2 separate regions of the Homo sapiens genome follow, and region 1 is linked to region 2. Evidence: fine-mapped expression QTL. A gene starts in region 2. The other region holds a variant in brackets. All regions are shown on one strand. Distances are from middle to middle. Region 1 overlaps KDELR3 (KDEL endoplasmic reticulum protein retention receptor 3). Region 2 holds the start of JOSD1 (Josephin domain containing 1).

The links. PIP is the estimated chance that this variant, and not a neighbour inherited with it, causes the effect. A credible set is the group of variants that fine-mapping cannot tell apart.
Region 1: its variant is the best candidate, but not a certain one, in a credible set for the expression of JOSD1 in nasal epithelium (TOPMed, PIP 0.58).

The regions. Positions count from the first base shown.
Region 1 is chr22:38,481,531-38,486,906 of GRCh38, reverse strand. KDELR3 (KDEL endoplasmic reticulum protein retention receptor 3) reads right to left here. Exons shown (of 5, transcript NM_006855.4): 5 at 3,460-4,411. The coding sequence ends at 4,371. DDX17 (DEAD-box helicase 17) reads left to right here. Exons shown (of 13, transcript NM_006386.5): 13 at 467-3,469. The coding sequence ends at 972. Among named protein-coding and RNA genes, the nearest start is that of KDELR3, 16 kb to the right of the region's middle. The variant T/C (reference allele first, on the strand shown) is at 2,972.
Region 2 is chr22:38,698,821-38,704,196 of GRCh38, reverse strand. JOSD1 (Josephin domain containing 1) reads left to right here and starts at 3,254. Exons shown (of 5, transcript NM_001360236.2): 1 at 3,254-3,397; 2 at 3,579-4,394. The coding sequence starts at 4,210. RefSeq lists a silencer at 2,788-3,747.

The DNA.
Region 1 (5,376 bases), 220 kb after region 2:
GCCAGTGTGCCCCCGGTCATGGTTGCTTTTTTAATACTTTCAAAAATGCTTAGTAGTATATTAGGTTTCCAGTTTTCCATACGGAGAGGTCAGTCATTTTACACTGTTTAGTGGTGGGTAGAAACTGAGACATAGCAGTTGCATCTACAGTTGCAGAATATCCTAGGATCTGGGCTTCCTGACTCAAGGTTTCATATTGTAATACCGTGTTTCTTGATCATCCTCAAGTAAGGGGCCTAAAAGGGTGAAAAGGTCTAGTGTCCTTTAATTTTTACTGTGCTTTTGAATGTGCCCCATTAAAGAATCAAATTATGAGTATATTTTTACAGTACTAATTGGGAGGCTGGCCAGCATAACTAAATATCAAGGAGACATGTTTAATACTTTTGTACCCAGTAGAATTTTTACATTGTTATGTTTAGGTCCTATATCTGCCATTAAAAATCTTCTTGTATCTTCCCATTAGGTGGTCGTTCTCGTTACCGGACCACTTCTTCAGCCAACAATCCCAATCTGATGTATCAGGATGAGTGTGACCGAAGGCTTCGAGGAGTCAAGGATGGTGGCCGGAGAGACTCTGCAAGCTATCGGGATCGTAGTGAAACCGATAGAGCTGGTTATGCTAATGGCAGTGGCTATGGAAGTCCAAATTCTGCCTTTGGAGCACAAGCAGGCCAATACACCTATGGTCAAGGCACCTATGGGGCAGCTGCTTATGGCACCAGTAGCTATACAGCTCAAGAATATGGTGCTGGCACTTATGGAGCTAGTAGCACCACCTCAACTGGGAGAAGTTCACAGAGCTCTAGCCAGCAGTTTAGTGGGATAGGCCGGTCTGGGCAGCAGCCACAGCCACTGATGTCACAACAGTTTGCACAGCCTCCGGGAGCTACCAATATGATAGGTTACATGGGGCAGACTGCCTACCAATACCCTCCTCCTCCTCCCCCTCCTCCTCCTTCACGTAAATGAAACCACTCAAGTGGTAGTGACTCCAGCAGACTTAATTACATTTTAAGGAACACTGTCTTTCCTTTTTTTTTCCTCTTCGCCTTTTCTTTTTTTTTCCTTTTTTCTTTTTTTTTTTTTAATTTTTCCCCCCAACCATCGTGATTTGTCTTTTCATGCAGATTAGTTAGAATTCACTGCCAGGTTTCTTCTGCCCACCAAAATGATCCAGTCTGGAATAACATTTTGTAAAAAAAAAAAAAATATATATATATATATATAGCTGACTGGAAGAGATTAATTTCTTCCCCCAACTTCTTGCATGTTGAAGATATTTGAGCTATTTTTCATCTAAAAGAGTAAGGTATTAGGCCCTTTTGTGGGAGCCCCATGTTTTGTTTTTCTGAGTTGGTGGGGAGGGAGGGAGGGGGAGGGCTGAATTGTTTTGCAGAGGAAGATGGCATCTGTGCTTTAAATTTCTCATTACTGGGTTAGAAAACAAAGAGGGATTGCCCTGCACATTTTCTTTTGTGCTTTTAAATGTTTCTTAAGTTGGAACAGGTTTCCTCGGGCCTGTTTTGACTGATTGCTGGAGTGCATTTGATAGTTAAAAATTACTAATTGGTTTTATTTCCCTTCACACTCTGCCTCCCCACTTCTCCCCCCGTTACTGAAAAATAACCATTTTAGTGTCAGGCTAGAAATTGAATTGCTGAGTTTTGTGTATCCTTTAAATTAAAAACCACAAGTGTTTATTGTAGTGGTTAAACTGTAGCATCTCAGCATCTGGGTGGAAGCTGCCTATATTTCTTCCCAGTTTAACTGGGGACCATCTGTGAAATTAATTTTCCATCCAGACAGCTGCTGTGAGCAAATGAACATAAATGCTCGCTGGAAATTTACTAACCAGTTTTTATATTGACCTGCAGTGTAAAAAGCACATTTAATTATAAACAATATATTCAAAATGGGCAAATTTTATTTTCAAATGCAGTGTAGAGCTAGATTAAAAGCAACTCTTTGCCACCTACTCTGCCCTTTTGGCAAAGTTACCTTGAACAAAGAATCTTAAGGGTTTATTAAGAACTCTTTATTTTCTTCATACCCTGTTCTCTGCAGTGCTTTCTAACAGCTTCTGGGTGCAGATTTTCTTCGGCATCCTTTTGCACTCAGCTTATTACAGGTAGGTAGTGCTTAAGAAAAGTCATGGAGGACTAAAGCCTAAGTCCTTTTCACTTTTCCTCCATCTGAAGGTAGGTGAGTTCATCCTCTTCATGGTAATGCTGTTTTACCAAGACTTTATAGCAGATGGACCCAGAAAGAATTTTCTGCTATTGTGTTCACTACAACAGGATAGGGACATCAGACAGCCCCAGAAACCCCTTCCAGATCTGATATGGGACTATTAATTTTTATGCTGTTAATTGGTATTCATTCACAATGCAGTTGAAGGGGGAAGGCTCCACTGCATTCTTTGGCTAAGGCCTGAATGCTTGCTCATCTGTAAGATCTATACTCGAGGTTTTGTTTTCCTTTTAAAATTCTTTAGGGAGAGAGGGATGGTTTCTGAGGGGTTCTGAAAGTATGATTCAATGTGCAACATACAGGTAGGTCTTCAGCATAAGCTGAAATATATGCATGTAAAAACTTTGACATCTTTTTTTTTAATTTTCCACTTTCTTCTTAACTTTACTTCTCTTTTTGTCCCCCCCCCATCTTACAGAAGTTGAGGCCAAGGGAGAATGGTAGGCACAGAAGAAACATGGCAAACTGCTCTGTGCTTTCAAACCAAAGTGTTCCCCCCAACCCCAAATTTGTCTAAGCACTGGCCAGTCTGTTGTGGGCATTGTTTTCTACAACCAAATTCTGGGTTTTTTTCTTCTTTCTTTAAACATAGAGGTACCACCACAAGGGATGCCCTACTCTCTCGCAGCTCTTGAAAGCATCTGTTTGAGGGAAAGGTCTCTGGGCAAGCAAGTGGTTATTTGGATTGCTTGCTTCCCTTTTTCCACCTGGGACATTG[T/C]AATCATAAAATAACAGTAAATTCCAAACCTCAAAAACTATTATGGCCTGAGCACAGCTGAAATCTAGCAGAGTTTAACTCTTCTGCCTCCATGTCTGTCACTTATAATTCAGGTTCTGCTGTTGGCTTCAGAACATGAGCAGAAGAATCGTTTTATGCTAGTTATTGCATTCATGGTTGAAACTCAACTTAGGGAAAGGGTTCCAATGTATTAAGCAATGGGCTGCTTCTCCCCAATCCTCCCTAACAATTCGTTGTGTGGACTTCTCATCTAAAAGGTTAGTGGCTTTTGCTTGGGATCAGTGCTCTCTATTGATGTTCTTGCTGGTCTCCAGACACATTCCTGTTGCATTAAGACTTGAAAGACTTGTAGATGTGTGATGTTCAGGCACAGGATGCTGAAAGCTATGTTACTATTCTTAGTTTGTAAATTGTCCTTTTGATACCATCATCTTGTTTTCTTTTTGTAGGTATAAATAAAAACACTGTTGACAATAAGGTGTGAGCTTTTATTGCTTAATTCTCTGAATAATTCAACGTAGACGTCTTAAAACAGTTTTTGTTTCAAGACAAAGATGGGGGATATTGGATTGACTGATTACTTTCGCACCTAAAACTGAAAGGAAAAAACTTAATACAAGAATTGGAATTGAAAACCCTAGCAGGATACCTAGTAGGTAAGGGTTTGGATATATCTGTATCTGCTCATAAGTAAAACAGTGATTGTGCAAATGGTACTCGCCTAAGTACCATTAGGTTATTGGTATTAAGGTACTAAGTACAAGGCAGGTATCAGCCACTGGTTTGAAAAAATTCAAACCAGTAAAAGATGAGTCACAAAACTCCTCCAGCCAAACCTGGTAAATTTGGTTTGCTTCTGGCCTGAAGGCAGTGTGAAAGTGAAATAAGTTTCACACTTAAAACTAGCTGACACCTTTATATCTTGACCACCTAAATTTGGTCATCTACCTGGAAAGTGGAAATTCACAAGAACGTACCCTAATATTTTAACTGGTCTTTAGTTGGGACATTCTAAGAGGAGGGACATTGTTCCAGATTGGGGTTGACTTGCTCATCATGAGTCTTGCCCTCAGGCCTTGGAGAACAATCATTTATGTTTTTTATTTCGTCGGTAAGACACCTTAAGGTTTCTTGTTGCAGTGAGGCACCATCTTTGTGCAGGTGGCCGAGGTTTTTTATGACCTTACAATGGGTCTTTAAGGGCGATCTATTGATGAGAAGGTCTTCTGGGTGGGATGATCAGGTTTTGCTGAAATCCACACTAAACACTTTTCTGGTTTTAACATTTGATCCCAAATTATGGATAAGTTGCCAAAGAGAACATTCAAAATAGTTTCCTTCATGTGCTTGTTAAGGCGTAGACTGTCTCTGAAGGTCCTCAGATTGGCATTGGAAGACTTAACTTCTTTCCCTTAAGGACTGGAAGAAAATGGAGATGAAATAAGAATTTACCATCTGATGAAAGGACTGCTTTATAACTTGATGCATAATCTTGGTATCATCTCTTAATGGCCGGCTCACAGTATATGTTCGATTGTTAAAGCAAAGGGGGAGTCCATCTCCGGTTGACTATGGACCTACTGATCCCCGACTTGGTTACTGGCACCCTTCCCCCCAGCTGTAAACTTAGCGATTGGCCTCAAATTGTCTATTGTACATCTCATACAATCAAATCAGCAGTCCTTCTCAAGTCCTAGAACTTGTGTCCACATGTCTTTCTACCTAGAGCCTTTTTCCTGATCAACTGCAACTGCCCCATAGCTAGTCACTGTACTTGGACTGCTTTCTACCCTACATAGCAGCTAGTGGATTGGGTTTTTTAATGACCCAATACCTGCCCTTGGCAATCAGAATGTAGTGCAAGCCCCTTACCCTGGCCTACGAGGCGCTAGGTCAAGCTTGTCCAACCCGCGGCTCAGGATGGCTTTGTGGCCCAACACGAATTTGTAAACTTTCTTAAAACATATGAAGTGTCTTTTTGTTTGTTTTTGCTCATAAGCTATCAGTGTATTTTATGTGTGGCCCACGACAATTCTTCAGTGTGGGCCAGGGCAGCCAAAAGGTTGGACACCCCTGCCCTATGTGAACTGGTCTTGGTTGACTCATCTCCAGGTTTATAGATTTTGACCCCACTAGGCTTTTTGTCCATCACACCAAGCTGGTGGTTGCCTTGGGGCTTGTAATAAGTTCTGGAATGTTTTTCACTACTAACCAAGTATTCTGTCAAATGTCATCTCACAGCTGTCTTGCATAGTACACATAACCTATTGGCCTGCATGTTTTTATGGCATTTGTTTCTTTATTGAAAATATTTGTCTTCTTGCATTAGAACACAAGCATTGTGGATGGCAGAGACTTGACTGTTCACATCTGTATCTGCTGGA
Region 2 (5,376 bases):
CAGTGGGATCTGACAGTATCTCCAGGTAGACAGTGTGAGACGAATTGAATTGAACTAGAGGACATCCAGCTGGCGTCCCCTGCAGCACTGATGGGTTGCTGGTGGGGATAAATCCACACATTTTGGTGACCAGAGGTGTTGTGTTGTATTGAGAGTAGAACATTTTAAAAAACAGATTTTGGCTTTTCCTTTATGGCCCAGATTGATAGCATCTCACCAACTGGCTCTTCCAAAGAGTTCAAGTCGGCCGGATGCGGTGGCTCACGCCTGTAATCCCAGCATTTTGGGAGGCTAAGGTGGGCAGATCACCTGAGGTCGGGAGTTCGAGACCAGCCTGACCAACATGGAGAAACCCCGTCTCTACTACAAATACAAAACTAGCTGGGTGTGGTGGTGCATGCCTGTAATCCCAACTACTCAGGAGGCTGAGGCACAAGAATCGCTCGAACTCGGGAGGCAGAGGTTACAGTGAGCCAAGATCGAGTCATTGCACTCCAGCCGGGGCAACAAGAGCGAAACCCCATCTCAAAAAAAAAAAAAAAAAAAAAAAAGAGTTCAAGTCCAGAATGTGCTGACAGCTAATAGCGAACTAAAAAAATACCCTTTGCACTATAGCCTTTACCCAGAAAAGAACTCTCAGAGCAGGTACTTTTGAATTGAACAGGGAACTCTATCATGACATTTTATAGAAGGAATTCCTTACCCTACCCATCTACACGTCTTTCCGAAGAAAAGTTGGAGCCTAGGTTCAAATTCTGTATTCACTATGTACTGGGTTCACATATCATATGTATGTGACCTTTTAAGCAAGTTAACTTCTTAGAGCTTGTTTTCTCCTTTAAAGAAATAAAGTATCTAATAGGATAAAATCAGCTGTAAATGAACTAATATATGTAAAGCACTTAGAACACTGCTTGCTGCAGAGCAATCCCTCAAACTATTCATATGTAAATATAACCATAGCCGTGGGTAGCTTACAAATTACTTTTTTTTTTTTTTTTTTTTTTTGAGATGGAGTCTCTGTTGCCCAGGCTGGAGTGCAGTAGCACGATCTCGGCTCACTGCAAGCTCCGCCTCCCAGGTTCACGCCATTCTCCTGCCTCAGCCTCCCGAGTAGCTGGGACTACAGGCGACCGCGACCACGCCTGGCTATTTTTTTTTTTTTTTTTTTTTTTGTATTTTTTAGTAGAGATGGGGTTTCACCGTATTAGCCAGGATGGTCTCAATCTCCTGACCTCATGATCCGCCCGCCTCGGCCTCCGAAAGTGCTGGGATTACAGGCGTGAGCCACCACGCCCGGCCACAAAAATTTAATTCAAAAGTTGGCTGGACAGAGCCAGAGGGCTCCTCACCCTGAGGCAGGCACTCCAGCGTGTTAAATCATAACGTTGAGGGTAATGGTGTTAAAATAGTCACGTTTGCCAGGTGCAGTGGCTTACACCTGTAATCCTAACACTTTGGGAGGCCAAGATGGGCAGATCACCTGAGCCCAGGAAAGAGTTCGAGACCAGTTTGGGCAACGTGATGAAACCCCACCTCTACAAAAATAAAAATAAAAATTAGCCAGGTGTGGTGATGCATGCCTGTAGTCCCAGCTACTCAGGAGGCTGAGGCAGGAAGATCGCTTGAGCCCAGAGGCTGTGGGTTAGCCGTGAACGCGCCACTGCACTCCAGCCTGGGAAAGAGAGCAAGACCCTGTCTCAAAAATAATAAAACTTCAGGCCGGGCGCGGTGGCTCACGCTTGTAATCCCAGCACTTTGGGAGGCCGAGGCGGGTGGATCTCAGGAGTTCGAGACCAGCCTGGCCAACATGGTGAAACCCCGTCTCTACTAAAAATACAAAAATTAGCCGTGCGTAGTGGCAGGAGCCTGTAATCCCAGCTACGCGGGAGGCTGAGACATGAGAATCGCTTGAGTCCAGGAGGTGAAGGTTGCAGTAAGCCGAGATCGCCCCGTTGCAATTCAGCCTGGGCGACAAAAGTTAAACTCCATCTTAAAAAAAAAAAAAAAAAAAAAGGCCGGGCACGGTGGCTCACTTCTGTAATCCCAACACCTTGGGAGGCCAAGGCGGGTGGATCACCTGAGGTCGGGAGTTCGAGACCAGCCTGACCAACATGAAGAAACCCCTCTACTAAACACACAAAATTAGCCGGGCGTGGTGGCGCATGCCTGCAATCCCAGCTACTCGGGAGGCTGAGGCAGGAGAATTGCTTGAACCCGGGAGGCGGACGTTGCGGTGAGCGGAGATCATGCCATTGCACTCCAGTCTGGGCAACAAGAGCGAAACTCCGTCTCCAAAAAACAAAACAAAACAACTAAATTTGAAGTGCAACAGTTTCTTCTCGTTTTTCCAGTTTTACAGAAAACCCAAAAGAAGGGCAGCTAAGGTGGATAATGATGCCTACCACGCACCCTAAGAGTAGGTAAAGGGGAAAAAATGAAATCCACGTGGGACTGCGAGTAGTTTTCGCCTTTTCCCGAAGACGCACACAATGCGCTTAGGTATACCTCGCGCAGAGGTCTCTGCAGAGAGGAAAGCCACCGTGAGAAGAGCGGGGAGCCCCCAGGCAAGAAGGCAGTGGCTTGTGTGTAGTGAACCGAAATGCGACACCAAGGAACTGCAACAGGATTCTCCTTTCCACTTGAAATGTGACTCCCAGCGAGACACCTACCCTTGACGCTCCCTGGACAGTGCGGCACGGTCGGGCCCACTAACCAAGGCAATTTGCGCCCGACCGAATCAGGTGCTTCAAAATCCCCCCTGGTGAGCCGCGCGTTAACCACACATAAAACAGTCAACGCAGAAGGAGCGAGAACGTTCGGCCGAAAAGCCCGGCACAGAGAAGGGAGGGGTGCTGAAAGCCGCGGACTGCAGCCGCTGGCCTGGCTGCCGCCCCGAAACAACGCCCACGCCCGGGAGAAGGGCAGGCTGGCGTCCAGGTAGGACTCCCTCAGGCCGCCCCGCCAGGGGCCGCGCCGAGCGGAGCGGCTGGACCCCAACCCTGCCGGCCGCCGCCGAGGTGCGCAGCCCGCAGCCCCACACCCACGGCCTTTGCAACACCCCAACCGTTGAACTGCGCCCCTACACGCCCGGCGTCTGCGGCTCCCAGGCCGGTGCCGATGACGTCAGACTTACGTCAGGCGTGACGCCACGGCTGGGAGGAGTGAGGACGGCGCGGGAGGGCGTTTCCGGAGCACGCGCCGGGCGGGGGCCGCTGACGTCGGGCTCAGGTGCGCGCGCCCGCCCGCACGGCCCAGTTGGCGGCGCGCACTCCAGGTGGCGGCCGGCTGCGGTGAGGGGACCGCCAGCGGCGAGCAGTCCCGGCGGCCCTGGGGTCTGCGGCCGGGGGCGCGGCGGGAGGGCGTCTGGGCCTGCGCTCACGTGACGGGCGGGGAGGTTTGTGTAGGGGCTGCGAGCCGGGTGGGCGCGGGCCCGGGAGCGCGAGGCTGACTGTCCGGCCCCACCCCTCGCGGGCCAGCCCTTCGCCGCGCGGAACCTTCCCTCGGGCAGGGGCCGGCCCCGCCGCTCACTTCCCGCGCCCGCTCGCCGCTGACCGGAGTTGTCTCCTCCTCCGCAGGGCCGCGGCCAGAGGGCTAGAATCCGCGCCTTCCGAGGGAGCCGCGCCCTGCGGGCCCCACCGTACCCGAGGGGATGGAGGGCTGCCCCCGAGGCCCCCGCGCGGCTCGCGGTCCCACGCCTGCCGGCCCGCGCTAGCTACTCGACTCGTGCGCTAAATTTATCCGTCACCCAGGCCTTGTCTCCCGAGTCATTGGCGTCGTGGTTCAAAAGAAATGGAAGAAAAGGAGCGATGTGACCGATTGTGTTCGGTCCTCCTGCTTTGAGGCCTGGCATTTGCAGAGGGAAACAGCAAGAAAATCGTGGGGATTTTGGAGGGGGGTGGGAGGGAAGGGTGGGGAAACGGAAACAAGGTCTTACATTTTATGTGTTTTTTTAAATTCTGCACTTTGACAGTGGTAGCAAAATAAAAGTAATCCAAAAGTTATTTTTCTATTGAGAAGAGAGAAGAGGTGGGTTTTATTTTTTTCCTTTTGATTCCAATCTTTTCTCCCAGTGACAAAGCATAAATCATGGACACCAGAGAATAAGGTGGACCTCAGGAATCCGGAAAAGACTGAGAAGCTTACATTCTTCCTCTAGAGGGAAGAGTGGGGTGTTTATAGCCATCTCTGGAACCTAAAACAAAAAACATGAGTTGTGTGCCATGGAAAGGAGACAAGGCCAAATCTGAATCATTGGAGCTGCCCCAGGCAGCACCCCCACAAATCTACCATGAGAAACAGCGCAGGGAGCTTTGTGCCCTCCACGCCCTCAATAACGTCTTCCAGGACAGCAATGCCTTCACCCGGGATACGCTGCAAGAGATTTTCCAGAGGTAGGGGACCCTTCTCCTTGGCATCTTGATACTGATATTTCTGGATTTCTGTGGGTGGGGCAGTGTCTCAGCTTCATAAACCTTCAAAGCTGTAGGTATTAGCTAGATTGCGTTAGCAGGTATAAGGGACACAAGACATGAAAAGATAATCACTACCATTTATCAGGCACTTACGGTGGGCTAGGAAAGTACTCATAGCCTCAGCTGTGTTTTCTTGAGTGATCTTCAACAGTCCCGTGGAATACGTGTTAATATGTGATGTTATTTCCATTTTACTGATGAAGACACATTTAGTTCAGTACCTCGCCCAAGATAACAAGACTTGGAGCTGGGGTTGAATTCTTATATCTATGCTGTTGACCACTATGCTATAATGCCTGTAAAGCTCTGCTGCCGAGGAGTTTACAGTCTAGAAGTGGGACTAGATACGTACACGTTCAGTCACCTGTCTTTAAAGGTGGAATGTGGTGGGTACCACAAGCAAGATGTATAAACAATGCTCAGCTTTTCTGTGAGGCCATGTGCTGGCAGTAGTGCTGTTCGTACATTGCTTTGTGAAGCTCTCCCAACAGTCATTTCACTGCCTGTATTATGCTGATAGGCAGAAAGGTCAGGTAATATGTCCAAATAGCTTCTAAATAGCAAAGCTATAATTTGAAGTTGACTCCAGATCTCTTCTTTCTCCTTTATTCTAGATGGCCTTTCTTACCCACTTAGAACAAATGCCACCCCACAGGTTAATAGAGGTTCAGGTTTTGGCCAAGTACGGTGTAATCCCAGCACTTTGGGAGGCCGAGGAGGGCAGATCACCTGAGTTCAGGAGTTTGAGACCAGCCTGTCCAACATGGTGGAACCCCGTGTCTACTAAAAATACAAAAATTAGCCCGGTGTGGTGGTGCACGCCTGTAGTCCCAGCTAGTCGGGAGGCTGAGGCAGGAGAATCGCATAAACTTGGGAAGTGGAGGTTGCAGTGAGCCAAGAT